7 linked regions of the Homo sapiens genome follow. The protein of the gene in region 3 purifies or fractionates together with the protein of the main gene of each other region. This does not show direct contact. Each region holds a gene or a part of one and is shown on either strand. Other genes may lie near its edges. The genes, in order: NPHP4, ARHGEF19, DAAM1, ATP1A3, MME, FNBP1 and FNBP1L.

Evidence for each region.
Region 1: the proteins of DAAM1 (region 3) and NPHP4 purify together in Homo sapiens (co-immunoprecipitation; one study listed by IntAct). This does not show direct contact.
Region 2: the proteins of DAAM1 (region 3) and ARHGEF19 purify together in Homo sapiens (co-immunoprecipitation; one study listed by IntAct). This does not show direct contact.
Region 4: the proteins of DAAM1 (region 3) and ATP1A3 purify together in Homo sapiens (co-immunoprecipitation; one large-scale study listed by IntAct). This does not show direct contact.
Region 5: the proteins of DAAM1 (region 3) and MME purify together in Homo sapiens (co-immunoprecipitation; one study listed by IntAct). This does not show direct contact.
Region 6: the proteins of DAAM1 (region 3) and FNBP1 purify together in Homo sapiens (pull-down; one study listed by IntAct). This does not show direct contact.
Region 7: the proteins of DAAM1 (region 3) and FNBP1L purify together in Homo sapiens (co-immunoprecipitation; one study listed by IntAct). This does not show direct contact.

The regions. Positions count from the first base shown.
Region 1 is NC_000001.11:5,866,926-5,870,897, reverse strand, and holds part of NPHP4 (nephrocystin-4), read left to right. Parts: intron 1-3,001; coding exon 3,002-3,158; intron 3,159-3,782; coding exon 3,783-3,868; intron 3,869-3,972. UniProt on the Homo sapiens protein: Involved in the organization of apical junctions; the function is proposed to implicate a NPHP1-4-8 module. Does not seem to be strictly required for ciliogenesis. Required for building functional cilia.
Region 2 is NC_000001.11:16,209,693-16,214,264, forward strand, and holds the start of ARHGEF19 (rho guanine nucleotide exchange factor 19), read right to left. Parts: upstream 2,961-4,572; 5' UTR 2,810-2,960; intron 522-2,809; exon of another isoform or gene 448-521; intron 1-447. UniProt on the Homo sapiens protein: Acts as a guanine nucleotide exchange factor (GEF) for RhoA GTPase.
Region 3 is NC_000014.9:59,324,610-59,328,581, reverse strand, and holds part of DAAM1 (disheveled-associated activator of morphogenesis 1), read right to left. Parts: intron 2,919-3,972; coding exon 2,852-2,918; intron 2,623-2,851; coding exon 2,505-2,622; intron 2,073-2,504; coding exon 1,934-2,072; intron 1,650-1,933; coding exon 1,591-1,649; intron 1-1,590. UniProt on the Homo sapiens protein: Binds to disheveled (Dvl) and Rho, and mediates Wnt-induced Dvl-Rho complex formation. May play a role as a scaffolding protein to recruit Rho-GDP and Rho-GEF, thereby enhancing Rho-GTP formation. Can direct nucleation and elongation of new actin filaments.
Region 4 is NC_000019.10:41,970,231-41,974,202, forward strand, and holds part of ATP1A3 (sodium/potassium-transporting ATPase subunit alpha-3), read right to left. Parts: intron 313-3,972; coding exon 158-312; intron 79-157; coding exon 1-78. UniProt on the Homo sapiens protein: This is the catalytic component of the active enzyme, which catalyzes the hydrolysis of ATP coupled with the exchange of sodium and potassium ions across the plasma membrane.
Region 5 is NC_000003.12:155,083,222-155,087,193, reverse strand, and holds part of MME (neprilysin), read right to left. Parts: exon of another isoform or gene 3,152-3,972; intron 3,037-3,151; 5' UTR 3,027-3,036; coding exon 2,867-3,026; intron 2,136-2,866; coding exon 2,100-2,135; intron 1-2,099. UniProt on the Homo sapiens protein: Thermolysin-like specificity, but is almost confined on acting on polypeptides of up to 30 amino acids. Biologically important in the destruction of opioid peptides such as Met- and Leu-enkephalins by cleavage of a Gly-Phe bond.
Region 6 is NC_000009.12:129,892,893-129,896,864, forward strand, and holds part of FNBP1 (formin-binding protein 1), read right to left. Parts: intron 3,105-3,972; coding exon 2,946-3,104; coding exon of another isoform or gene 2,926-2,945; exon of another isoform or gene 2,369-2,925; intron 1-2,368. UniProt on the Homo sapiens protein: May act as a link between RND2 signaling and regulation of the actin cytoskeleton. Required to coordinate membrane tubulation with reorganization of the actin cytoskeleton during the late stage of clathrin-mediated endocytosis.
Region 7 is NC_000001.11:93,450,954-93,454,925, reverse strand, and holds part of FNBP1L (formin-binding protein 1-like), read right to left. Parts: intron 1-3,972. UniProt on the Homo sapiens protein: Required to coordinate membrane tubulation with reorganization of the actin cytoskeleton during endocytosis. May bind to lipids such as phosphatidylinositol 4,5-bisphosphate and phosphatidylserine and promote membrane invagination and the formation of tubules.

The sequences.
Region 1 (3,972 bases), on a different chromosome or scaffold from region 3:
CCTGCTGCCCATGGAGTCCTTCTGGCGTGGCTGCAGCTGTTGTGAAGTGCACAGGCGGTTATCCTGCAGGGCGTGCCCAGTGGGGCTGGTCTGGTGTTCGTTTCAGTTAGACCCAGGTTATGCACTTGGGGCAGGACCTCCACAGACATTTGCCGTGTCCTCTACGAACATCATACTGTGAGGGACACCGTGTTGCTTTGTCCTGTTACTGGCGATGTTACTGTTTTCATTCAGTTAAGATGACATCTGCCATGCTTTTTTCCTGTAATATCAGGAAATGTCTAGTAATTAGAAAGTCATGAGTAAGTATCTTGTTGGGAGATACTGAGGCCGTTCAAATACCCTATTCTTCATCAGACTTTGACGCACTAGGTGTCAGTGTGCACTGATGACCTGGCCCGAGTTGGTTGGTAGTGGGATGCTTGCCTGCCATGGATTTTCCAATTCCATCATTCCTTCTCTGTTGATTACTGGTATTTTAAGTAAGGTAGAGCTGTGCCTTCACCCCATTCACCTATTTACTTTTTATATCCTTATGAACAATGAATTTCTATTTTATTCATTTTGTTACTATCATTATTTATTTTGTTGCTCATATTCGTGCCCTGACTAACCAGGGCAGCCTCTTCAGGCCAGCTCCTGCGTCCTGTTGATTCACCCCTGTCCTCCTTTGAGTCTTTCCTTACTGCCCAGCACAGCAAGACGCCCCAGGCTCAGCTTGCATTTCAGGAGTGTCAGCTATTTAGCTCGGGTTCCTTTGGTTGGAGAATGATATTTAGAAACCAAGATTTGAGCGTTAGATGTACTCAGTACTACTGGGATGTCACTGCTGCTAAGTCCCTCTCAGCAGAGACCTAAGAGGTGTATGCCTGTGGGTGCAGATACATACATACACAATATGTGCATATCATGCATATATGATGTATAGATATGTGCGTGTATGTGCACAGACTACTGTTTCTAGTGTGCTGAAGACCATGAATTTGCAGCAGTTCTTCCAACACCAATTTAACATCACGGGTTTCTTCCTGTTTTTTTCCATGTTTGTAATTCTCATTTCTGCTCATGAGAAACCTAGCTCGCATTTGGCTTACTTATTTGCCTAATTTCCTCTGTATATAACCAATCTGCTGACCACACTGGCCAAATCCCTTTGGCTACAATACCACTGGCCATCTTTATGTACGTGTATATTTCAAAACATCAGTACCAACCAGGGCTAGACACTATCTGTCAGTGCAAGATTTCTGAAGGTGCATTTGTCTTTAGGTCCTTTGTGTCCTGTGATTTACATTTACTTAAAGAATTCTTCTCTGGATAATTACAGCACCAACTTGATAGAAGCTTAGATTTGTTTATTTTTAATACATTAACACTTCTATTTATTTTAGTTTTCAAAATTAAAAACAAGTAAGTCAAAAATCAAACTATAAAGCAAGATATATTTGGAAGGATCTTGTTTCCATTCTTGCCCTGCCCCACTCTCTCCTTCTCAGTGTGTGCAGGTGTGAAGTGTGTGCATGTGTGTGTGCATGCATGTGTGTGTGTGCGTGCATGTGTGGGTGGTGTGTGTGTATGTGCATCCATGTTTGTATTTGTGCATCTGTGTACATGTATGGATGCATGCATGCATGTGGGTGTGCATGTGTGTGTGTGTGTGTGTGCATGTGGGTGGATGTGTATGCATGTGGGTGGATATGTGTGCATGTATGTGTGCATTGTGTGCATGTGGGTGCGTGTGTGTGCATGTGTGGGCGGATATGTGTGCATTGTGCGTGTGTGCATGTGGGTGCATGCATGTGTGCATGTGTGGGTGCATGCATGTGGGCATGCATGTGTGTGCGTGTGGGGGCATGTGTGCATGTATGTGTGTGCATGTGTGTGTGTATGGGTGCGTGTGTGTGCATGTGTGGGTGGATGTGTGTGCATGTGTGTGTGCATTGTGTGTGTGTGCATGTGGGTGCATGCATGTGTGTACATGTGTGGGTGCATGCATGTGGGCGTGCATATGTGTGCGTGTGGGGGCATGTGTGCATGTATGTGTGTGCATGCGTGTGTGGGTGCGTGTGTGCATGTGTGGGTGGATGTGTGTGCATGTATGTGTGCATTGTGTGCGTGTGTGCATGTGGGTGCATGCATATGTGTACATGTGTGGGTGCATGCATGTGGGCGTGCATGTGTGTGTGTGGGGCATGCGTGCATGTATATGTGTACATGCATGTGTGTGCATTTGTGGCTGGATGCGTGTGTGCATGCATGGGTGCATGTTTGCATGTGTGTGCACGTGTGCCTGCATGCATGTGGGTGTGCATGTATGTGTATGTGTATGGGTGCATGTGTGGGTGCATGAGTGCATGCGTGTGTGTGGGTGCGTGTGTGTGAGTATGCATGTCTCTGTGGTTGTGTGTATCTTGAAACAAATATAGCCTTTTTATCAGTTGTCCCAATTAATACCTCTTCAGACAATATGGTTTTTAATGAGTAGCTCTTTTGAAACCAGGAAAGTTTCTATTTCTAACCCCTTTGGTTTAGGCACAGCCTCTTTTTGCCATCTGGAATCAAAGAGCTTGTGCTGACGTGCTTGACCGCGAACTTGGCCCTGCCACCACCCACTCCAGGACCTCCTGGCCTGACTTGCGCACATGCACACAGGGTGTCGGGAGGTGGGATCATGGCAGGAGTAGTTTTGACTTGGGACTGCAGACCTTCTCCACTGGCATTTAAGAAGTGTGCTGTACTCGCGAGGAATAATGGCAGTGTGGCTGCTTGGGTGCCCTGTGTGGGTGCCGGCCCAGACCTTGCTTAGCGGTCCCCTCCTGGTGGAGACCTGCTGCTGCAGACTCAGTCCCTGCCTTTGACGATGCCCGACCTTCCCCGCTCATGGCAGTGGAGGGTGAGGGGGTCTTGGCAACAGTGGAGATACGTGTGCTGTCTAAGGAGGGACAAGAAGCTGCTCACAAGCCTCGTGCCCATCCCAACACTCAGCGTGGCCTCCTCACAGGTCTTGTTCCGAGCGAGTGGTGGCAAGCCCATCGCCGTGCTCTGCCTGACTGTGGAGCTGCAGCCCCACGTGGTGGACCAGGTCTTCCGCTTCTATCACCCGGAGCTCTCCTTCCTGAAGAAGGCCATCCGCCTGCCGCCCTGGCACACATTTCCAGGCAGGTCCTGCACTGACCCTGCAGCCCACATGTTGCAGGCTCACCTGTTGGAAGTAGATACCTCTTGAGGGTGACAGATGGCCTCATGGCTTCATGCCCTGGTGCTGTCAGAGCAGCACGTGGGGCCTGGGGAATTCTCTCTCCTGCCTTTATGGTTTGAAACGGTGTCCCTCTTGCCACCTCTGAGATGACTAGGTGCGCATTTGCCGGCTGAGTCTGCCCTTCTAAAAAATCCCAGCTCCCGCGGCCCAGGTCCAGGTGTGCCTGGAGGAACACCTACCTCCTCACCTGACGGCCCGCGTGTTTCTGGTAGGTGCCCCTTACAGCAGAGTGCAGGCTTCCCTGCTCCAGGGAGCTGTGTTTTCTTTTTTGTGGCCCCCTCGATTATTCCCTGTGGAGATGGCTGCAGCCGAGCCGCAGTGGGCTGGATGGGCGGTGTCCATGCAGGGAACACAGTGCTTGGATGCTGTCCTGGGAAAGGTGGCGGCGTCCGTTTCCCCAGCAGGTGTCTTGCTGAGCACCTGTGACGAGCCTGTCCTGTCCTATAGTGTGTAATGTGTGGGGCCTTCTCCACACAGGCTGGGGCTGTGGAGAAGACTCTTTTTGACATTTCCCCTGCTCCAGGTGCTCCGGTGGGAATGCTTGGTGAGGACCCCCCAGTCCATGTTCGCTGCAGCGACCCGAACGTCATCTGTGAGACCCAGAATGTGGTAGGTTGTGTTGTGGCCCCAGCTCAGGCAGATCCTTCCCAGTGAGTCTGCGCCCCTGTCGGCTTCCCCACGGGTATCCTGGGATCCTCTTCATTTTAGGTTTT
Region 2 (4,572 bases), on a different chromosome or scaffold from region 3:
GCACCCAAGATTTCTCACCCTCCTGTTCCCTTCACATGCACACAGACACACACCAGCCCACAGGTCCTTGCTCTGATGTTTCTCCCCCCATCTCCCCGACCCTTGCCCAGAGTTGCGGCCTTCAGTGCTGAGTGGTGCCCACACCCATGCCAAGTTGGCTGGGAGGGTCATGGACTGGCAGGCGGGCCACCACCCAGATCAGGCAGGGGCCTTCTCGAAGTTCAAAGAGGTGCCCCAGCACCCCCGGCTTGGAGTGAAAGAGGGGCTGTCCCCCACCCCAGCTTCCAGCCCCTGGGTGGGCCAGGCTGGATGGGTCCTTTCTGGGCAGGAAGTTATCCCTGGGGAGCCAGCCCTCCGATCGGGGCAGGCCTGATGATCTGAGAGGCCCAAGCCCCCACAGCTCTTGCCCTGTGGCCCTCTGCCAGCCTCCCTCCTGCAGCCCCTCACCTCTCTGGGCCCAGGCCCGCTGCTGATGCTGTTTGGCTGTTCCGGCAGGGGAAGCCCTCTCTCTGCCCAGCTGGCTGGGGGAGATCCCACCCAGACAAAGAGTTTGATTCATCAAACCCTGTGGTGAGGCAAGCAGGGAGGGAGGGAGGGAGCAGGCAGCGGGCTGGGCGGGGGCCTACCCTAGCCTGGCCTCGCTGTGGGCAGGCCGGGCAGCCAGGACCCCCCAGAGGCCCCCTCAGGCCAAAGGGGCAGTGCCCAGCCTGGCAGGACCAGGAGAGCCAGGAAATGAAGACTGAGAGAGACCCAGAGAAACAGAGACCACTTAGCCAGTAACTGAGAAACCAAGACCCCAAGACGTTCAAAAACAGAAAAACCACAGATGCTGAGACATTCAGGGACCCAGAGATGGAGACAGAGACACTGACAATTTCAGGCCAACCAGATCCTCAGAGACACAGATGAAGCCCAGAAAACCCAGGGAGACAGATGGACAAACATTTCATGCCCGTGGGCTGCCAGTCTAGTGGGAGAGCCAAAAATGAAAACAGTTACAATCCAGGTTGGCAAGAGCCAAGCCAGAGGAACCATCAGAGGAGGGTGCTCGGCTCAACTCAACCTGGGTATTCCAGGAAGACTTCCTGGAGGAGGTGATAGTTAACTGCTCCACGGCTGAAATACATAGTGCACTTAGAGGGAAAGCCTTGGCCTGAACAGTGACAGTGTCAGTCACTATTGGAGACAGGGAGGGAGAAGAGGACCCAGCGAGAGATGGCTGGGTCTATGGCAGGCCCCAGTCTCTCTGCACAGCTTCTCAACTGCTTCCCCCTGCTCCCTTCACCCTGCTGTCTGGGAGGGTGGGAAGAAGGGGACTGGCTGCTCCAAAGGGGTCCTCTCTACGGTGGCCACTCTGGCTTGTACCATCAGCCTCTGTCCCTCTAGCCTGAAAAGTACCCATCTGAGCGAGTCTCCCTAAGCCTCGGTCTCCTCATCCGGCAAATAGGATAGTATTTTTATTATCATCAGTCTTTCTCTAGACAGAAGGCAGCTCAGGCCTTCACACAGATGGGGAAGATGAAGGAGTGAGGCTGAGACACACATTATATCGCAGGAGTGTGCACAAGGAGGCCCCTGCCCACAGACGGGTCTCTTTCTCTGCAGGAATCAGAAGTCCTCGACACAGAAGTCCCACTTGCTTCTGGGGGCACACATGTGCAGGCATGTACACATGCCCCCTGCCCCTTTGTATGCTGGGAGATTCTAGCACTTGGGTTCTGGAAGCTCCTGGAGGGCAGGGAGGGACCCTCTCTCCCATGGCTCACAGGGATAAGTAGGCAAAACATTGAGGCTTTGCAGCAGGAGCACCCCCAGTTAAGGCTGCAGAGGAGAAGGCTAGGTGAATGTGGGGAGAGGGGACATAGAAGGCTTCCCGGGGAGATGAAGCTGGAGGCAGGTCCCTAGCAGGGAAGAAGTCAGGAGTGTGTCAGCCTCCACCTATGCTCAAGCCAAGGGGTAATAAGAATGACCCATCTAGCTGGGATGCCAGCCCTGTGGCCCTCCAGGGGTTTGGCCCACCCAACCTCAATGCTGGGGAGCTAAGAGGGACAAGCTGTGTTCATATTGTGTGTAGCTCATCTCTGTTAGAAAAAAACAAACAAAAACCTCAGAAAGAGAACTGGCCCCAGACAGCAGGGACATTACCTTCCCAAGGCACGATCACAGGATAGAGACTCTTGTGTCTACTAGGCAAGGGCCACTCTGGAGCCCAAAAAGAATAACCTCCGCCCAAGCTTTGAGGCCCAGTGTTGACACTGACCAGCTGTGTGGCCTTAGGCAATTCACAGCCCATCCCTTGGCCTCAGTATTCCCATCTGTAAAGTGGCTCCTAAGGGACCGCACCACCGCCCAATGCCCTCTCTAAGAAACATGTCTCATCATAAATGTCTCTGGGCCAAGAAGGATGGGCAGGGGCCGAGGAAAGTACCCTTGGTGGGTGCTGCTAATTACAGAAGACGATGGGCCCACTTAGCAAGGCTGCCAGAGAGTCCCTGGACACTACCATGATCAGAAAAAGTGTTTCTGGCCTCCTGTACCTAGCTTTTCCCTGCCCCCTCCCGGGTGCCCCTTGCCTTGCTGCCCAGGAGAGCTGGTACCCTGCCAGAGCCTCTCTGCCCTTTAAGGAATAAAGCCAGGTGGGAAGTCATGGCTGGAAAGTGGATCCAGGCCAAGTGGTTCACAGAGCCCCAGAAGGCCATAGTGGGTCAGAGCCAGGATCAGAGACCAGGCGGGCAGCACAAAGGGCTCACTCAGCGGGGAAAACTGGCGGGAAGAGAATGGGACTGCTGGCACCCAGGTGGGGCCCTACCTCAGCCAGGGAGCTCCGTCCAGCTGCCAGCACGGTCCAGGGCTCCGGGACACCCTGGGGGCTCTGGGGTTGCAGCCAAGTCCTCAGGGGGCGATGTCAGCATGTCAGCATGGCCCCAGAGCCGAGCAAGGCAAGCTCCTGGGTATTGTGTGGGGCAGGGAGGGGGAGGTGAAGGAGGAGGGAACCTTGCAGAGAGAGGCAGGCGGCTGTCTCAACGTGCCTGCTCCCCGCCCCCCTTCCCCAGAACCGGTTTGGCTAGTCTGGGGTACAAGAGGGGGGCTGGAACAATGGGAGTCCTATGCCCAAGTGAGGCTCTGAAGGACCCTACACCCAGGTCCTAAAGACGGGGGAGGCAGTGCTTCTGCTCCTAGGAGACAGGTCACCACTCTTCTGGAGCTTCCCAAACATGAGCATGCTCAGGGGACTTCTTGGAGCTGGGGAGCATCCTGGGAGCTTCACAGAGAGCCTCCCAAGCCCTGCACTCCTTAGGGACCCTGAGAACCCTGATGACCCTCTCTGATCCTATTACTACATCTATCAAATTGGAACACTCATCCCTATGATTGGGAGACAGAAATCAGTCCTGAAAGTTGATGATGTGACATGTGGCATCATCCTGGACAGCCTCTCCTCATCTAGTACAGCCACTGCTTGCAAATCCCCATCCTTTCCCACGGCCTGGAATGACCTGCCCCACCATCTCCAGTGGCCGCCTCCACCATGAAGCCTTCCCAGACTATACCAATTGAGCCCTCAATAAACCAAGCCAAATAGCCAAGTCAAACTGCCTCCAATAAGAAGGGCATGCTCTATGCCCGGCATGCAATCTTCCCAACCCTGTGGAATGGGAAGCTGCATTTTCCCCTAATTCTACCTGCCATCTGTTTGAGCTACCAGCAATTGCCAGGCACCTAATATTAATATGCAGATGTGTACACAGACTAATAGTCATGAAGCTAACTTATTGTTCACCTACTAGGTGCCAGGCACTGTCCTGAGCACTTCACATGTATTTACTCATTTAATCTCCACCATGACCCTGTCAGGTAGATACTGCTACCACTTATCAGGTGAGTACAGTTGTCCCTTGGTACCCAGAATCTGTGGGGAATTGGTTCTAGAACCCTCCCATACGAAAATCCATGGCTGCTCCAGTCCCTTATACAAAATGTCATAGTGTTTGCTATAACCTTTGTACATCCTCCAGTAAATTTTATTTTATTTTATTTTATTTATTTATTTATTTATTTATTTATTTATTTATTTATTTATTTTTAAGATGGAGTCTTGCTCTGTCACCCAGGCTGGAGCAAGTGGTGGGATCTCAGCTCACCGCAACCTTTGCCTCCCAGGTTCAAGCAATTCTTCTGCCTCAGCCTCCCCAGTAGCTGGGATTACAGGCGCATGCCACCACACCCTACTAATTTTTTTTGTTTCTAGTCAAGACAGGGTTTCACCATGTTGGCCAGGCTGGTTTTTGAACTCCTGACCTTAAGTGATCCACCCGCCTCAACCTCCCGAAGTGCTGGGATTATAGACGTGAGCCACCGCACCCAGTCTATTTTATGTATTTATTGTCAAAAAATAAAATAAAATGTCCTCAAGTGAGAGGGTCTCACTCTGTCATCCAGGCTGGAGTACAGTGGTGCAATTACAGGGCTCACTTGCAGTCTCGTCGACCTCCTGGGCTCAGGTGATTCTCCCACCTAAGCCTCCTGAGTAACTGGGACCACTGGTGTGCACCCCCACACCTGACTAATTTT
Region 3 (3,972 bases):
CACAGTGAGAAAGGGGGAGAGCTGAGACTCAGACCCAGAGCTCAGCACAGTGCCTGACACATACAGGCATTCAACAGGTATTCACTGAATGAACGAATGAATGAATGACTCGAAAGCTTACATCCTAAGTGCTCTCCTCAACCTGCACACTTGAGTCTCCATGCTCTAGAGTGTATTCCTAAAATATCCACTCATTGACTATTTTCTCTTTGGTTTAATCTCTTTACCCTGATTTTTAGTCAATGTTTCTATCATTTTTGTAGCAGTTTCTGAAATTTATTTTTTAAAATGCATGTGCAATGTCACTTATTTGGGAGCAATCTGAATACATATGAGGAACTCGTAACATAACAGTAGTTAGTTCACAATTGGTATTTTCTGATATCAGTTATGGCCCTGCTTTTCTGCTCAGTGGAAATGTGATGAGAGAAAAGGAAATGCTTAGGCATCTCTGGGACCTGCTTTTCAGCACATTAAATATTGGGGTGAATGCTATTGTATTTCATTGGCTGTGAGTGAATAACTTGGACAAGGAAAAGGAAGTCAGTTAACCAGTATGGTGAGAGCATGGTAGCTGGCAGTATGATTATTTCCACAAAGAGGCCAACTTCAATTTGTTAATATTTTAAAACAGGAAGGAAAATTACATACATTTCTCTGTATGGCTGGTACACTGATGGACATAAATGTCTCTCCTATCATTTGATACTAAGAGATAATATCAAAGACATATTCAAATACACACTAATAGCTGGCCAGCTAATGTTTCGTAACACATATCTCAGCAATGGTCACTGATTTTCTGAATGACTTCTCTTTTTATAACTGGTACCAAATCAAGGTCATGGACAGAATTGGGTTATTGAAACCAAGTAGGCCGGGCGCGGTGGCTCACGCCTGCAATCCCAGCACTTTGGGCAGCCAAGGCGGGTGGATCACGAGGTCAGGAGATTGAGACCATCCTGACTAACATAGTGAAACCCCATCTCTAATAAAAATACAAAAAATTAGCCGGATGTGATGGCGGGCGCCGGTAGTCCCAGCTACTCGGGAGGCTGAGGCAGGAGAATGACGTGAACTTAGGAGGTGGAACTTGCAGTGAGCCGAGATGGCGCCACTGATTCCAGCCTGGGTGACAGAGCAAGACTCCATCTCAAAAAAAAAAAAAAAAAAAAAAAAGAAACCAAGTGACCTGTTCTTCTCTTTTAAAATTTTGGATAATTCCTCAAGTCCCTTATTACATTTCTTAAAACCCAGTATGATTTAAAGAGCCATGACGGAGTAGGGGAAGGGTTTGAATTATTAGTAGTTAAGAAAATTTGATTTAAGGAATACTGAACAGCAAATGCTATAAGCTTTTCAAAACATTTACATGATTATAATAAAAGGATAAAATATTTGAGAATCAGTATGACAACTAAAATAGCTCAATTTAAGAAACTCAGTGCAAAATGCCCTTAAAAGATGGAAAAAGAAAGGCTGCCTGCACCAAGCTAACAAGAAACATCAATGTAAATTTCCAAAATATATGGAAATCAAGGTCACCCAATAACCAATAACACAGCCTCTTATCAGGGCCTCATTATTTACCTTTTCTCATTTTTTCCGCTTGTTCTTTCCACTGCTTAACTTCATTTTCATTAACCAACCTGTGTAAGAGTTCAAGGAGCATTTATTACAAAAAATATAAAAGGTCCACTGCTAACTGCATTCTCCCCAGGTACAAAAATAGTCTACTGCAGAGAAAATCCTCAGTGCATGCTTGAAACCCATTTAAGACCAGATGTTACTTAGCTATAGTGCATGTGTACAGTAACTCATATTTGACCCCTAGAACATTTCAGCTCTCCCAGCTGTTACTCTGAAGTAGGATAAAATAAATATCTTACATTGTCACCATTATCTCACAGCAGCAGAATAAGAAGAGACTTACATTCGTACGACATTCTTAATATTAAAGTTTTCCAAAGGTGTGGAGTCAGGGTCCTGTCCTTTGTCATTCTGGATAACTATCTGCTGTATAATTCTATCTAGTAGTAGCCAGTACTGAACAGTGTTGCCACTCCTCTTGTCTAAAAAAGAAAAGAATAGTGAAAAAAAATCTTCAAGTTGTTTCTAAGCTAGGATGAATATTTGTCAATGGTGGTCACCCTTTAAAGCCACCAAACCAGAGATGTTTATAACATCTGCACCAATGCTTCCCAAAGTTATGGAATTTTGACATGCAATGATCATTTATTTGATTGAGAGGTACCCTCTACCCCTTTCTGAACAGGTTGTAAGGCATATTTTTTATTTTTAAAATCAAAATTTTAATTTGTTTCATTTAAAAAATTTTGTAACACCCTTTAAGCCATGTAGACACACATACTTGGCTGTCATAAAACCAAGGCTTGGAATCCCTGGTGTGCACCCAATGTAATCAGCACTGTGCAGGAGCCAGAACCCATTAGGACAATGTCCAAACATTCAGAAGCACACATGTGAGTCACGAACACACTTACAAGGCATTTGGAGGCAGTGGTGCAGGATGGACATGAAATGCGGGTAAGCTTCACTATGTGTCAGCCTCTTCCTGGTCAGCTCAAACATCTGAGTTGCACTTTTTGTGTCTATGTGAACCTATTTCACAGGAAAAAGAAATCAAATCAAACATCTAAGTTCCTCAGTTTCCCCAGTGTAAAGTAAACTCAAAGCAAACAGAAGCTAATCCTGCCACTTAGGAAACAAAATAGAGCTTTGAGTTTGCTTTTAGGTTGCCCTAAAGTCCATGTGGACTCTACAACACACATTACAGACAGAAATAATGTGAACTGATGAATCAAACCAGAATAATTGTAAGCATACGTACCAGTTCAAATCTTTTGGCAAATTCTAGTTCATCTTCATTTCGGAGCATTTCAAAAAAGTCTAAATGCCTGAAAAATAATGAAAGAAAAGTTATTAAGTAGAACATCCTATAAACACAGGTGCATAAGACTGAGGACATTAATATCATGGTTTTTCCTGACTTTTCAGAGATATCTCAAAAAGGAACAATGTAACAAAATTTGAAAGCTTCAACTTTGTTCTTTCTAAGAAAAAAAGACATCACCTGAGCGAAACAGATCACAATATGAGAAAAATTTAAAAGTCTACGATGCCTAGCATACAGTAGGCAATTATTAAATTAAAACTAAATCTAAAAACAATCAAGTTCAGATTCCACTATGGATTCCCTTTATGGAAAAACATGCCCATATACCTACACTTAACTTCCAGCTGAATTAAAGATCACAAAAGAAATGATCATGCCATTCATTTATTCAGTCACATATGTATTGAGCTCCTACTATGTATTCTACACACCCAGGATACATTTTATGAAGACAAACACATCAGGGTAAAGGAAATAGAAAATGATGGCAGATGAGGTGAATAATGTACACACAGTGGTTAGAACAGGTCTCTCTCCAGGGAACTAGGGAACCAACAATTTGGACATCTGTGAAAGATCTTTTGAAGCTGAGGAAACAGCAAGCGCAAAGGCACTGATGCAAGAGTGTTCACAGAATATCAAGAAGAAGAGCATGTTGGAGTATATGAATATACAGGAGAGGAGAGCCGTGGTAGAGAAAAGCTCTGAAAGCAAGTTGGGATAGCTTAGACTCAGTGAAATGATAGCAAACGATGAAATGAACAGGTAGTGGAAATTAACATTCACAGAATGCCTATCAAAGGGGCTAAGTAATTCCATAGGTTTTATAGTCAATTTTTACATCATTCCTGGAAAATCACTGTCATTATCATCATCACCACCAGCACTATCTTTTGCAGTTATAAAAACAGCAAAATTCAGAAAAATTGAGTAACTTCACCAGGATACACAGGAATAAGAGGCAGGACTAGGATAGGATATGAATTCAGGTCTAATGCTAAAACCCACATTAAGTTCTCTACATAATGTGCTGCTTCCCTCATCAACAAAGTCTT
Region 4 (3,972 bases), on a different chromosome or scaffold from region 3:
GTCCGTCCGCGGGTTCCTGGGCTGTCTCTTCATGATGTCGCTTTCGGCAGCCTCGTACGCCAGTGAGATGGCAGGGACCTAGGCGGAGGAGGCCGGGTGAGCCGGAGAGGGGAGGACTCCACCCTCCTGGGCCCCAAGGGTGGCTGCCAGGGCTCACCATGTCAGTGCCCAGATCGATGCAGAGGATGGTGATGGTGCCCAGGGGCAGCGGGATGTTGGCCATGATGAACAGCAGGAAGGGCGTGATCTCCGGGATATTGCTGGTCAGGGTGTAGGCAATGGACTTCTTTAGGTTGTCGAAGATCAGGCGGCCTGTGGCACAGGCAGGCTCAGAGCAGGCGCCCATGCCAGGGAGCCCCACTCCCTCTGCCCCTCCTCTGCCCTCATCCAACGTCCTTTTTTTTTTTTTTTTTTTTTTTGAGACAGAGTCTCGCTGTGTTGCCCAGGCTGGAGTGCAGTGGTGCGATCTCGGCTCACTGCAGGCTCCGCCTCCCGGGTTCACGCCATTCTCCTGCCTCAGCCTCCCGAGTAGCTGGCACTACAGGCACCTGCCACCACGCCCGGCTAATTTTTTTGTATTTTTATTAGAGACGGGGTTTCACTGTGTTAGCCTGCATGGTCTCAATCTCCTGACCTCGTGATCTGCCCTCCTCGGCCTCCTGAAGTGCTGGGATTACAGGCGTGAGCCACCGCGCCCGGCCTGTCCAGCGTCCTTTTCTACCCCCCAGCCCACCCACCATTATTTTCTTTTTGGGACAGGGTCTCACTCTGTTGCCCAGGCTGCAGTGCAGTGGCATGATCACGGCTCACTGCAACCTCGACTCCCAGGCTCAAGTGATCCTCCTGCCTCAGCCTCCCATGTAGCTGAGACTACAGTCACGCGCCACCACGTCCAGCTAATTTTTGTATTTTTAGTAGAGACAGAGTCTCACCACTTTTCCTAGGCTTGTCTAATTTCTGGGCTGTGATTCCATCTCAGCCTCCCGAAGTGCTGGGATTACAGGCATAAGTCTCCACACCTGGCCCCTCACCCACCTACCTTTCCACATAAACATCCAACCACATCGCCTTTGTGGAAACATTCTTGAAATAACCACTTTGGAAGATGGTTTCGGAGTTGCTATCAAACATCCCCCACCCCACCGACCGAGTAATCCGACTCCTAGGTTTTATACCCAAAAGAGAGGAGGACTGTTTATGCCCAGCGAAAAGCAAGTACGAGAATGTTCACCATAGCACCACTCATCAGAGCCAAAAGCCAGAGTCAACCCCATGTCCATCAACAGGTGAGGGATGAATAAACCACGGTACATCCATGCAGTCAAATACTACACAGCAAGAAGGGGCGAGCTACGGACACAACTCCACAGCTGGACCTTGGATCCCGTGCTGAGTGACACGAGCCAGACACAAAAGCATTCTTAGCATCCAACTCCAACTGGAGCAGGCTCAGCACCCGTCTCTGGGCTAAAAGTCAGGATAATGGTTATGTCTAGGAGGAGGGATATAGACTGGAAGAGAGCAGACAAAACCTAAATGGGGGGCTGGAATGGTTTTCTATCTTGACTGGGGTCTGGTGGTTGCATGGCTGTGTACATGTGTAAAAATTTATACACCCTGTCTGGTTGAATATTTTAATGAGATATAATATGCCCAACTCACTGTATGCATGCCATATCTCAATAAATATTCAACCAGTACAGGTTGTCTAAAGTAAACAAAATAAAGATTAATCCAGGCCAGGCGCTGGGGCTCACACCTGTAATCCCAACACTTTGGGAGACCGAAGCAGGAGGATTGCCTGAGATCAAGAGTTCAAGACCAGCCTGGCCAACATGATGAAACCCCATCTCTACTAAAAATACAAAAATTAGCTGGGCGTGGTGGTGGGCACCTGTAACCCCAGCTACTTGGGAGGCTGAGGCAGGAGAATCATTTGAACCTCAGAGGCAGACGTTGCAGTGAGCCGCAATTGTGCCATTGCACTCCAGCCTGGGCAACAGAGCAAGACTCCATCTCAAAAAAATAAAATAAAATAAAATAAACATTAGTCAGGCACGGTGGCTCGAGCCTGTGGTCGCAGCTACTTGGGAGGCTGAGGTGGGAGGATCACTTGAGGAGGTCGAGGTTGCAGTGACTGATGATTGCAGCACTGCGCTCCAGCCTGGGCAACAGAGTGAGACCTTGTCTCTAAATAAATAAATAAGTAAAAAGATTAGCCCATGAACAATGAGGTCAATCATTAAGAAAGAACAGGCGGGCACGGTGGCAAACACCTGTAATCCCAGCACTTTGGGAGGCTGAGGCGGGTGGATCACGAGGTCAGGAGATCGAGACTATCCTGGCCAACATGGTGAAACCCCATCTCTACTAAAACACAAAAAATTAGCTGGGAGTGGTGGTGTGTGCCTGTAGTTCCAGCTATGTGGGAAGCTGAGGCAGAAGAATCGCTTGAAGCTGGGAGGTGGAGGTTGCAGTGAGCCAACATCACGCCACTGCACTCCAGCCTGGCAACAGAGCAAGACTCCATCAAAAAAAGGGGAGGGGAGGGGAGGGGGAAGGAAGGAAGGAAGGGGAAGGAAGGAAGGAAGGAAGGAAGGAAGGAAGGAAGGAAGGAAGGAAGGAAGGAAAGAAGGAAGGAAGGCAGGCAGGCAGGGACGGAGGGAGGGAGGAAGGGAGGGAGGGAGGGAAGGGAAGGTGAAGCAGGCTGCCTGTGGTGTGGCTTCTTTGATTGCTTTGATGTCTCTTGCATAGCAATAAGGGCCTGGGCCGCTCCCACCTGATATTCTCGTTCCCTGCATTGTGCTCTTCTCCACAAACTAGGGGTTTCTCATCCTAAACTATTTATGGATGAAATGGTGACAAATGTGCATCAGCATAATCCAGTGTGTGTTCCAGGTGGTGGGGAAGAAACAAGGTGTGCCGTGCGCTGACTGCCGCTGCAGGTGGGATGGAGGCGCAGGGGCCCACTGTGCCTTTGCTTTACTTTTGGGTATATCTGGAATGCCCCCGTTGGAAGTTATTTTGTTTGTTTGTTTGAGACAGGGTCTCGGATCTCGCTCTATCCCAGGCTGGAGTGCAGTGGCACCATCATGGTTCATGGCAGCCTCGACCACCCAGGCTCAAGTGATCCTCCTGCCTCAGCCCCCCAAGTCTCTGAGACTACAGGTGTGCAACACCACGCCCTGCTAATTTTTAAAATTTTTTGATCTTTGAGGTCTTAATTTGTTGTACAGGCAGGTCTTGAACTCCTGGGCTCAAGCGATCCTCCCGCCTTGGTCTCCCAAAGTGCTGGGATTACAGGCGTGAGCCCCCGTGCCTGGCCCCTGACGGAAGTTAGGTATTTCTTCCCTCACTTCAGAGAGGCCTTCCCTGTCCACCCCATCTGGGCAGGACCCTCACTATTATCTATCACAGCGGCCTGCTTTCTTCGGGGCATATATCACAATTTGTAATTACATATCTGTTAACTTGTTTAAGGCTGTCTCTCCAGCCCTGTGAGAACAGGGATGGTGTCTGCTCTGCTCACAGCTGCCTCCCAGGCTTCCAGCATGATGCACAAGATTCGGAAGGAGCAGACGGCTGTATCTGAGACAGTGTGTGTACTGTGTATGCATAGATGTCTTGGGGAGGCCAGGCGTGGTGGCTCATGCCTGTAATCCCAGCAAATTGGGAGGCCAAGGTGGGAGGATTGCTTGAGCCCAGGAGTTGAAGACCTCGCTGGGCGAGGTGGCTCACCCCTGCAATCCCAGCACTTTGGGAGGCCAAGGTGCGGGGATCACTTCAGGTCAGGAGATCAAGACCAGCCTGGCTAACATGGTGAAACCCCATCTCTACTAAAAATACAAAAATTAGCCTGGTGTGGTGGCATGCACCTGTAATTCTAGCTACTCGGGAGGCTGAAGCAGGAGAATTGCTTGAACCCAGGAGGTGGAGGCTACAGTAAGCCGAGATTGCATGCCTGTACTCCAG
Region 5 (3,972 bases), on a different chromosome or scaffold from region 3:
CCGTCATTTTTTTGCAAAGTTCAGTGAATAACAAAAATCCAAGTAAAGAATATCCAAGACTGGGTGCAGTGGCTCATGCCTGTAATCCCAGCACTTTGGGAAGACAAGTAGGAGGACTGCTTGATCTCAGGAGTTCAAGACCAAGCTTGGGCAACATAGTGAGACCCTGTCTCTACAAAAAAAAAAAACAAAAAAAAACAAAAAAAACAAAAAACCCACAACCTAGCCAGGAATGGTGGCAGGTGCCTATAGTCCCAGCTACTCAGGAGGCTCAGGCAGGAGGATGCCTTGAGCCCAGGAGATCAAGGCTGCAGTAAGCTGTGATCACAATACTGCACTCCAGCCTGGGTGACAGAGCAAGATCCTGCCTCAAATAAATAAATAAATAAAATTAAAAATATCCAGCAGAAAATGGTTAAAATTATTTGGAACAGTTTATTTATTTCTTATAAGACACATAGATGTTAGAAAGGAGGTTTAGAATCTCTTGTTAAAGGACACAAATATTGTGTTCATATCCCAGGTGCTGCCCTCAGCTACCACCTTCCTTTTTCTTGAAGAAAGAAGAAATACTCCCATTTTCACCACACTCCAATTGATGGGATTTATATAGCTTCATACACTTCTCTGTTTTCTGCTCTGACTTATTTTTCTTCTCTTCTAATCATTGATGTTGTTTAGCCCTTGAACCTCTTCTTAAGTTTAGCCCTTGAACCTCTTCTCTTCTTTTGAGAACTCAAATACTTCCAAGGCTTCCACTATCACTCCTAAACTGACAGATCTCAAATCCAAATTCCAGCTTCTTAAACCTCATCTCTACCTTCCTCCTGTCTATTTTCATCTTAGACCAAACACATCCACATCCACCTCATAACCTCTCTATTTCTGTGTGGGCTGCCTCCATTCTCTTTAGTCCCTTGGGTTTTAAAACTTGGCATCATTCTCAATTCATTCATTTTATTTAGCAAGTCAGTTCTACTGAGTCACCCAATTCTCCCTCCCCATTATCTCAATAGTACTCTTCTCTCACCACAGGCCAACCTCTTCAGCTTACACTTGGAGTACAGAAGCAGCCCCCACCTGCCTGCCCTCCTTTTCACTCAATCCAGTCAACCTCACATTCGCAGAATCATCTTTCACCTTTGGCCTGATCACTCCTCTGTTCAAAAATATCTGTTTCTCCTGTATTACAATATCAAGGCTAAACATGGATTTCAAGGTTCTCCATAATGTGTCCTTCTATCAAGCGTACACTTTTACTACTTCTCAATAACATAGTTTCTTTCTTTTGTGTTTGGAATTCCCTCTTCTGCACCGCCACATCTAAATTCTAGCCCTGCTTCAAGGTTCTTCCCAAATTTAAGGCTGGGTGCGGTGGCTCACGCCTGTAATCCCAGCACTTTGTGAGGCCGAGGGGGGCAGATCACCTGAGGGCAGGAGTTCGAAACCAGCCTGATCAATATGGTGAAACCCCGTCTCTACCAAAAATACAGAATTAGCCAGGCGTGGTGGTGGGTACCTGTAGTCCCAGCTACTTGGGAGGCTGAGGCAGGAGAATTGCTAGAACCCGGGAGGCGGAGATTGCAGTCAGCCGAGATCACGCCACTGCACTCCAGCTTGGGCGACAGAGCGAGACTCTGTCTCAAAATATAAAAAATAAAAAAAATAAATAAAATGAAATTTCTTCCCAGATTTTAACTTCTCCACCTAGATTTACATGCCTACATCTCACTCCCTTCTTCTCACCCACCTAGTGAGGTGCACTGAGACATTTAACACAATGATACGAAACTTACCATTTCATATGTGTTCATTTTCTTTCTTCAACTACATGGCAAGCTCCATACAAATAGCGATATAGTTTTCTATTGCCCTGCTATACAGCCCAGGGCTGAAAATAGTAATATATTTTTCAGAGTAAACAAGTTAATTAATCTACTACTTAAATATATTTTTATTTCCATTGATTATAGAGCCAGACACATAAATAATTGATCTACAATGAATAAAAGTGTAAACAAAGCAAATTAAGATTAGCATTTAATTTTAAATATTATACATCAGTTGTATAACTATTACACGTAAAAACCATTTCTTACCTGATTTTATGCAGTCTGATGACTTGCAAATACCATCTAGAAAAAGGAGAGAATATACATAAATATTGGCAACACAAATTTTTAAATTTCTATTTTTCTTTTGTTCTTTTAAAAACTGCCAATTAAATAAGCAATTTCTTAAAGCAAGAACTAAAAACTGAACATTATATATCATTGTCAGTGGTTAGAAAAAATATAAGAAAATAAAATAAGTAAAATCTAAATTTAAAATTTTGATTATGAAGAAAAATGTGTTATTATATCTTCTCTACCAACGAAGCCCCAGGCCTATTAAATTGAAATAATCAGTTGTTTTTGCTTGGTAATCATTTTTTTAACCATTAAACAATCAATCTTTTTTCATCCTTGTTGTAAAAAACTTCCAAGACTCAAATTAAATTTGTTAAATTCCTGTGAAGCCGTTTAGAATTTCAATGACACAACAAAAGTTGACTAATGACTATTACTAAAGCTGGCCATAAAATTGTGTATATTTTAATCAAATAAAACCATACTTTAGATTCCTCATAAGTAAGCGTGAGCGCACTAAATATACTTGCAATTAATAACTTAGCTCAAACATAAAAGGCACCGTACTTCAAAGTTAATTATTTTGACATATTGATGTTACATTTTATAAATGAATCTCTTTGTCAGTCTTTAAGTGCCTCTATCCTTAACACATTCGTTGGATAGATGGTAAAAGCATGGAGGAAGATTTCCTTCTCTTTTGCACTTATGGATGCACAGGTGTGGGAGTAACTCACCATCGTAGGTTGCATAGAGTGCGATCATTGTCACAGCTATGATGGTGAGGAGCAGGACAAGGACCGAGAGGCTGATCTCCAGTGGAGTCCATCGCTGTTTCTTCTTTGGCTTTGGAGTGTTGATATCAGTTATATCCATCTGACTTTCTGACTTGCCCATCACCTAAAATCTGCAAAAAATGAAAATACTAATAATGAAAAACAAATAAATAAAAAAGAAAATGTCCAAATGCTTAATGTGGCTGGATAAAAGTAAAAGGCTCAGTTATTTTAAAATAGAAATACATTTTTGCTGTTGAGAAGTCAAAATTTTGTTGCTGAATGCAAAGTATATAGAGCCAAATGAATTTGACAGGTCTCAGTCACAACCTTTTGTTTTTTGTTGCTGTTGTTTTGTTTTGTTTTGCTTTGGTATATCACTGAAAATCTCAGCAAAATTAGACAGTAAGACTTGGTTAAATACTCAAGTAGGATTAATTCAGCAGTTTATAAGCAAATAATTGCTGTACCATCATTAAGAAAGTTTTAAACTCACCCTTTTGAACTCTGGACTAACATCAATGGTTAATTTTATATCTTGCTCCAGTGGCTTCCTTTATAAGCTCAAAAACCAGTGACTAATACCTTGAGGTTTTGACTAAGCAATAATTTGAAATATTAATATAGATAAACAGCAAAACGAATGAACACATGAAGTAGTTTATTTTAGTCATAAAAACAACCTTTATTTTTACAGTTCAAAATTACTACTACTACTGATACCAGTATCTATTAACTGGTTAGACAACATTCTGAAAATGGTCACTCACTGTACCAAAAGATACCTGAATATCCAACCTAACCACGCCCAATCCCATTTAAGAGGGGAGTAAGGGGGATAAGTAAACAAAATAGTACAAAAAGTTACCAAGTTGATACTTGTAGTCCTGTATAAAGCAGGGTATGCAAAAACATACCTGTATTCCTAAAATCTTTCACCTCAACTGGAGATGTGTTAAAAACTTTAAACCAAAAAGTGGACACTGCCACAGAATAGAATAAAGAATTAGGAAACTGGGGCACAGAGAAGTCAGGCAACGTGTTCAAGACTACACAACTCGTCAATA
Region 6 (3,972 bases), on a different chromosome or scaffold from region 3:
CTCCCACCCCATTCCCCCTGAAACCAACTGAGCTATTTTCTGAATTAAATTTGAATAACGAAATAAATTTGAATAATCAAGAAAAAAATACACAGCTTGACAGAATGCCTTTTTTCAAAGCAGACTTTCACAAGGTTAATGTCGTCTTGCCCTATTTTCGAGTTTTTCAGTGGTTAGTTTGCTTTGTCCAGGAGTTCACAGACTGGAAATGAGTTTGTCATCGGATAGAAAGGTCAGATTTTAATACCTTAGGTTTCCCATTCACTTGTTTACTGGGTAAAGCTGGAAACTTCCTACTGCTCATTTAAACAGATCCTTGTGGTTGAAGGGTCAGCTGATTTTCTTGCTGCAATATCTACAAAGAGGCCTGGGGTCGGGATGGGTGGCTTTATTGATACTATGCCAGCAAAAGTATCCAAAAGAAATTTGGGCCTGGCACGGTGGCTCACCCTGTAATCCCAGCACTTTGGGAGGCTGAGGCGGGCGGATCACTTGAGCCCAAGAGTTTGAGACAAGCCTGGCCAACATGGTGAAAACCTGTCTTTACTAAAAAAAAAAAAAAATACAAAGATTAGCCGGGTGTGGTGGCAGGCACCTGTAATCCCAGCTACTGGGGAGGCTGAGGCACAAGAATTACTTGAACTCGGGAGGCAGAGGTTGTAGTGAGCCAGGATTGTATCATTGCCCTTGAGTCTAGGTGACAGAGTGAGACTCTGTCTCAAAAAAAAAAAAAAAAAAAAAAAAAGCCAGGCACGGGCTCATGCCTGTAATCCCAACACTTTGGGAGGCTGAGGTGGACAGATCATGAGGTCAGGAGATCAAGACCATTCTGGCTAACACGGTGAAACCCTGTCTCTACTAAAAATACAAAAAATTAGCTGGGCATGGTGGCACACGCCTGTAGTCCCAGCTACTTGGGAGGCTGAAGCAGGAGAATCGCTTGAACTCAGGAGGCAGAGGTTGCAGTGAGCCAAGATTGTGCCACCGCACTCCATCCTGGCGACAGAGCGAGACTCCATCTCAAAAAAAAAAAAAAAAAAAGTTTTTTAAAAAATCAGGCTGTCACTAAATAAAGGTTAACTGGCTGTGAGAATCTTGAAACACGGCCCCTAGCATCCAGAACCCCTACTAGGTTCTAGAGCCCGAATGTGCAGCTACTGCTTGGAAAATCAGCTTTAAATGGACTTGAGCTGATCAAATGAACCCACAATGTAGAGGCAGGCAGGGGCTAATTTCCTACTTGAAAGTAGGAAGGACACAAGGAAATAATTTTCAAAATCAAATAAAAAGAGAATCTGACCCAACACCTTCATTCTGACCCATTTGTAGTGGGTTGTCTATGATCTCGGGGTGGATTCTGGAAATGGGCACAGTGAAATGCCTGGCAACCATCTACGCATGTGACCAACTTCACTATCTCCCCTCCCACATCAATGCCAATTTAAAAATGCAAATTCTCATGTGGCCTAGATTCCTTTCGATGTGGTGAGACATTTTACTTCATTCTGGCTACAGTTAATTGTATAAAATGAGCCAGAAATTCTAAAATAATTTCCAGTAAATCCAAACCTTGCCAATGATTAAAAGCAGAAACAAAACAAAACAAAAACAACAACAACAAAAAAACAAAAGCAAACCCCCAAAGTCTTTGAACAGCAATGTGCTGAGATCTGTGTCTGTGGGGAGAAGCATTTGCTGCCACACCACGTTCTCTTTATAGCCCCACCTGGGCAAGCGTGAGTGCAGCTCTACTTGGAAAACCAACAGAAACCGAACCAAGTGTGAGAGGAAATCACAGCCAAAAGGAGCTGATGCAGGGACACGCTCTGCCTTTTAAGTAACTCCATCTAAACAGCACTAGCACATCTGATCAACTGTCAATTTGGGCCAGGTGCGGTGGCTCACGCCTATAATCCCAGCACTTTGGGAGGCAGAAGCAGGCAGATCACTTGAGGTCAGGAGTTTGAGACCAGCCTGGCCAACAGAGCGAACCCGTCTCTACTAAAAATACAAAAATTAGCCAGGCGTGGTGGTGCACACCTGTAATCCCAGCTACTCGGGAGGCTGAGGCAGGAGAATCGCTTGAACCTGGGGGAGGCGGAGGTTGCAGTGAGCCACTGTACTCCAGCCTGGGCAACAGAGCCAGACTCTGTCTCAAAACAACAACAACAACAAAAACACAAACACAACAACAAAAACCTGTCAATTTGATGACACTTGGAAAATCAGCAATGCAATGTAAAAATCAAGTGGTCAATTCACCAAACTTTTCCAGATTTCAGCTGGTTGTCTGGGATCATGTAGATGGAACAGGGTACTCGTGATGCCCTACCAAGGATGCTGACCAGGTTTAAGTAAAAACACACACTTTTGGTGCCAATATAAGAATCTTATTTACTGCTTTAGTCAAGAAGGAGATGTTATTTCACTTGTGACTTCCTCCCAAGTGAATGAGTATACAATTTAACAAACTAACACAGTTCAGTTTATTAAGTTACAATCTGTAACCACCTAATGTAGCTCAGTGTATGGTGGATACTAGATATAAACAAGAGTAGGGAAGTCTTTGGCACCTGCATGATGCGTGCCGGCTTTTAAATTCAGAAAGATGAGAAGCTACAATGCAACTTTTTTTTTAATCTACAGATACCGCCAAAAGAAGAAATGTTTATCAGATTTTGAATGACATAGCTGTAAGTTGGCGGTTGGCAGCTTTCCACATAAAATTTCATCAGCAAGTGAAACTTGATTACAGCCCAAACTAGACAAGGCAATTCAGGTGCCCAGACCCTGAAGTCCACGTGAGACTACAGGAGAACGTGCATTATGGTGCTTGCCAGCCAGTCTCTTGAGGAACTGCCTGTAACAGTCATGGTTGTGGGGAGAAACAACTCCATTTTTTTTAAGTTTTTTTTTTTTATGGTATTAAATATAAGTCTTAGCACCTTTGGCATTTTTGTCCAAACAGACTTCGACATATGAAGTGGGGACATAACCCTCTTCATCTTCATTTCTCCGAATGCGGGTCCAGCCATCGCCTTTGTCTTCCTCTATGACATACAATGTTTCTCCTTCAACTACGGAAATCGTTCCTTCATTCTGACCTGAAAAAGCAATATCAGGATATGTTAGATGTCTTGGCAAATGCAGGGAGGAAGCAAACAGTGGCCTTCGCAATGAAACAAGTGTCGTCGAAGATGAAGTCCACACAAAATTCACCCCACTCGGACCTTCTCAGATGCACGGACCCCTCACCCACTGCCTCAAAACCATCTCCTTCTGCACAGAAATGTCCAGGTTCTTACCTCTGTCTCTCTAGGGACCCTCTCTAAGTCCTCCAGGGCCCTCTTTCTCCTCCCTCCCAGAATGGTAAGTATTTCTCACTGGATAAATCTTTGGTTCTCTTCTCTAGTCTTCTTCTGTCTCACTTGGATCTCTCTCAGGAGAAAGGTACCCTCGTGGCTCCAACTGCTTCTCTTTTGTCTGTTATTTTTTGGGGGGGTTGTGGGGGATGGAGTCTTGCTCTTGTTGCCCAGGCCAGAGTGCTGTGGTGCAATCTCAACTCACTGCAACCTCCACCTCCCCGGTTCAAGCGATTCTCCTGTCTCAGCCTCCCGAGCAGCTGAGACTATAGGTGTGCACCACCACACCCGGCTAACCTTTCTATTTTTAGTAGAGATGGGGTTTCACCATGTTGGTCAGGCTGGTCTGACTCCTGACCTTAGGTGATCCACCAGCCTCAGCCTCCCAATTTTTTTGTTGTTGTTGTTTGTTTGTTTTGAGACAGAGTCTTGCTCTGTTGCCCAGGCTGGAGTGTGATGCCACTTGTCCCGGGTTCAAGTGATTCTCCTGCCTCGGCCTCCCGAGTAGCTGAGATTACAGGCATGTGCCACCACGCCCGGCTAATTTTGTATTTTTAGTAGAGACGAGGTTTCACCATGTTGGTCAGGCTGGTCTTGAACTCCTGACCTC
Region 7 (3,972 bases), on a different chromosome or scaffold from region 3:
TAAATAAATAAATAAAAATAAAACAGCACAGTATATGCACATAACCCACATAACCTACACACATCGTCCCATATATTTTAAGTCATCTCTAGACTGCTTATACCTAATACAATGTAAATGATATGTGTAAATAGTTGTTATGCTGTATTGTTTTTAGATCTGTATTATTTTTATTGTTGTATGATTGTTTTAATTAGTATTTCCAGTCCATGGTTGGTTGAATCCACAGACGTGGAAATCAAATGATATGGAGGGCCTACAGTATACAGTCACAGATAAAGGGAAAATAAAAAACAATATAAACGAGCTGTAGTAATAATATATATTTAAAAATAAAACTAATTTCAAATTAGTAACATATTATTAAAGGAAATAACATCCTTCAAATATTCTTGCAGCGGCGCTAAAATAAATACACTTTCATCTTCTAAAACCCAGAGGTATTCCCCTCCTGCCACCAAAGTATTCAGAAGCAAGAGGTAATCCCTTCTACCAATAAACTAAGATTTTCTTCTGTGAATTTTTAAATGGTCTGAAAAGTGGTTTGATTATATACAAATGTGTAACTACACACACACACACACACACAGACACACCCATACACACACACAAGAGGTTCATGAATCAAGCAATCAGCCAGACCAACCTCTTTGCCTGCCTGGTTCCAGTCTACCCTTCATCACTACTTTCAGACATTGTGCACTCAAATTCAAGTCAAACGCAACACTAGACTCAGGTCAGTCCAACAAACATTTATTAAAGACCCTACTAATGTCAGGCTAATCCAGGCAGGATACAGCAATGAATCAGACAATGAATAAGCAATGAGTAAGACACAATATCTGCCCTCTAGGAACCTGTCAGGAACCCCCACCTGCATAACCCTTCTTATTCCAAAACCTAGGTCAAATGACAGTCTTCCTAAAGATTTTCCTGTGATACCTAGAATGAAAAGTCACTTTTCATAGCCCTAAAGTCCATCTATTACTTTCTAGTTGTTTTAGGGTTGCTTTGAGGCTCATGCTGATATCTAATTGATTCTTTTAGTATGCCCCACAAAGCCTAGCTTAGTGCTGAAGCCATAATAGGCATGAAATAAACATCTGTTGAATGAACAAGCATCAGTCCTGTTTACGTGTTTCAGGTGTATTAGATAGACATGGCCTGAACTGAAATATGGAACGGCTTTCACATTCTATAGAACAAAACCTTTACATAACCTTTCCTACCAGTTTTTAATATTCTATAGATATATTCCCCAAGACAGATTTTTTTTTGCTATTGAAGTGAAAATGTTTAAAGATTGAAGATTATTAAATAAGACAGCACTTGTTGATATACACAGAAGGTATTTGACATTTATAAGCCATTACTATTTCTCTTACTATTTCCTCTCTACAAACTAGCTGACAGAGGAAAAAGTTGGTAGAATAGGTTTTTTTAAAGTTTCCAGCCAAAATCATATTTTATAGGTTTATAGGGTGGGGGAAGGAGAGAGAGCAAATATTTTAAGAAAAAGGCAAAGAAAGCAAGCAAATGGAAGTAAATGGAGTATGAGTGGCTATGCAAAGGAGATACTGGTTAGAGGCAGCTCTCTAGCTTCCAACTTATTATAGTCATTATGGAATGGTGACATAAACAGATATCTTGATACCTCTCACTCATCCTCCTTAACTAATAGCAATAACGTCTGTAATACAATGTTGAACACAACAATTTCTACCAACAAAAGGGAATGTAAGATATTTAAGTATTTATACCATGACAATTTCCCTAAGATTTGAATACACAAGAAATAACTATAATAACCGTAATATAAGGTGGTAGTCCCATAAGACAATATCCAGAATGGGTAGTCTGGAGGCATGGGGTTGATAGGAATTGGTCAACAGAGGGCATTCTGGGCAGTGGTATCAATGTAGGGAAGTATTTTGGAGTTTACAGTAAAGTTATATCATCTCAAAGCAACTCTACCTTTTGTCAGGGCAGGGCCAATATCATAAGCCTTCATAAATCTCACCAAACATAACAGTGCTTCCCAAATAATAGACACAAAATTATTGTATTTTTAAAACAAAACTGAATTCCTACAGCAGTTTCACGGCCTTTCATTTACTTTTGGAGAAGCAATTCAGTTTACATTAATAATGAATTTTCTTTGTCAACCTCCTCTAGACAAGCACCCTCCAAAAAATGTGAAGTAAAATTAAAGTCAATATTATAGACAGTCCCAGCTTCTTGAGAGCTTAAGGAAGGACGATTGTGGAGCACAGAGTTCAAGACTGGCCTGAGAATATAGCAAGACCCCATCTCTAAAAATATACATATATATTACAGATATGGTCTAACCAGTAGACTATGAGACCCAATTCCTTTGTTACAGATAAATCTATTAATGTGGCCTAAGATTTCACCAATTATTTAGGCAGTCACATTACCAAGCTATCAATCAAGTAAATTCACCAGAAATTACCTGTAGGTCTTTTCTTCCCCATCCTTTTACCATTTTACTTGACAAAAATGTTTAACCCAAGTAGTAAAACTTAACTTTATAATTTTGGTTTCAGCTTTAGACTTTCTTGAGCTGTTATCCAGATCACCTAACCTATCACCATCTACAAAGGCCTTCAGAACCCTAAAGATACACTTGCTAATTAGTAATCAATACTCTGGGTAATGCAATCAACTATTAATGCAATTGGGCAAAACATGCATGATCACCTACAAGCATTGTCTTGGTCAGTGAAAACAAAGATGAATCCAGCCTTTCTACACTCAAGGACAATCTAGTCACTTACAATGTAAATTTAAGTGCTATATAAAGTGTTATGAAGCCAAGATAATAAAGTATTAAAAGGTTAACACTGAGGATAATACATAAATTATCCACCTAATCTATCACTCAACCCACATTTTTCAGTTTCTTCCAAAAAGATATAAGCTTTGTCAAATGCATTTAGTTAATAATATGATGAAGACCGGGCACGGTGGCTCACGCCTGTAAACCCAGCACTTTGAGAGGCCGAGGCGGGCGGATCACAATGTCAGGAGTTCAAGACCAGCCTGGCCAACGTGGTGAAAACCTGTTTCTACTAAAAATACAAAAATTAGTCGGGCATGGTGGTGTGCACCTGAAATCCCAGCTACTCGGGGGGCTGAGGTGGGAGAATGGCTTGAACCAGGGAGGCTGAGGTTGCAGTGACCCGAGATCGCACCACTGCACTCCAGGCTAGGCAACAGAAGAGACTCCATCTCAAAAATAATAATAATATAAATAATATGATGAAAATAACAATGGCTTTTAAATTACACATTCTTAAACTAAGGGCCAAAGATTATATCGACCAAGAAATTAAGGCATAAAAAAGATTTATATGCACTTATAAATTAAATCAGATATTTGAATCCATCTTCTAACTACCAGACTTGTCCAGCATTTTCCTTGGGTAGCAAATTTTTCAGTAAATCATATGAATGTGAGGTGCTCAGCCATATATTTTTTTCATATTTATACACACATTCACAACCCATACACAGATTTTTTCTGTCGAACTTTAACTAGGTCCTCAAAAACTAAAAACCTATTTCTTAATAAGTAAAACTTATTTACTAAACATAGGTCTTTTCCAATCTCTAATGTCCCTATCTGTTAAAAAAAAGCTAGTAATTTCAAAATCTGTGCTTTGTGAAATTATTAATTCATATTTGGCTATCTGATCCATCCATTCTTGCTATGTAATAAAGAAATGAACACAATAAGCAATGCCTAAGATGTTACCACGCATCCTGAAGAAGTGAAGACAGTATCATCTCTTTCCTTGGTATTACCCAGAATACAATGCAAAACTGTGACTGTAGTATATATTCACTAACTTATTTACTCATTTGGAACACTAGAAATCCCTGTAAGCACAGCTCAAATTTATTACAAGTTAATTCATATCCCCTAACAACTACGCAACCAAAGTCTGA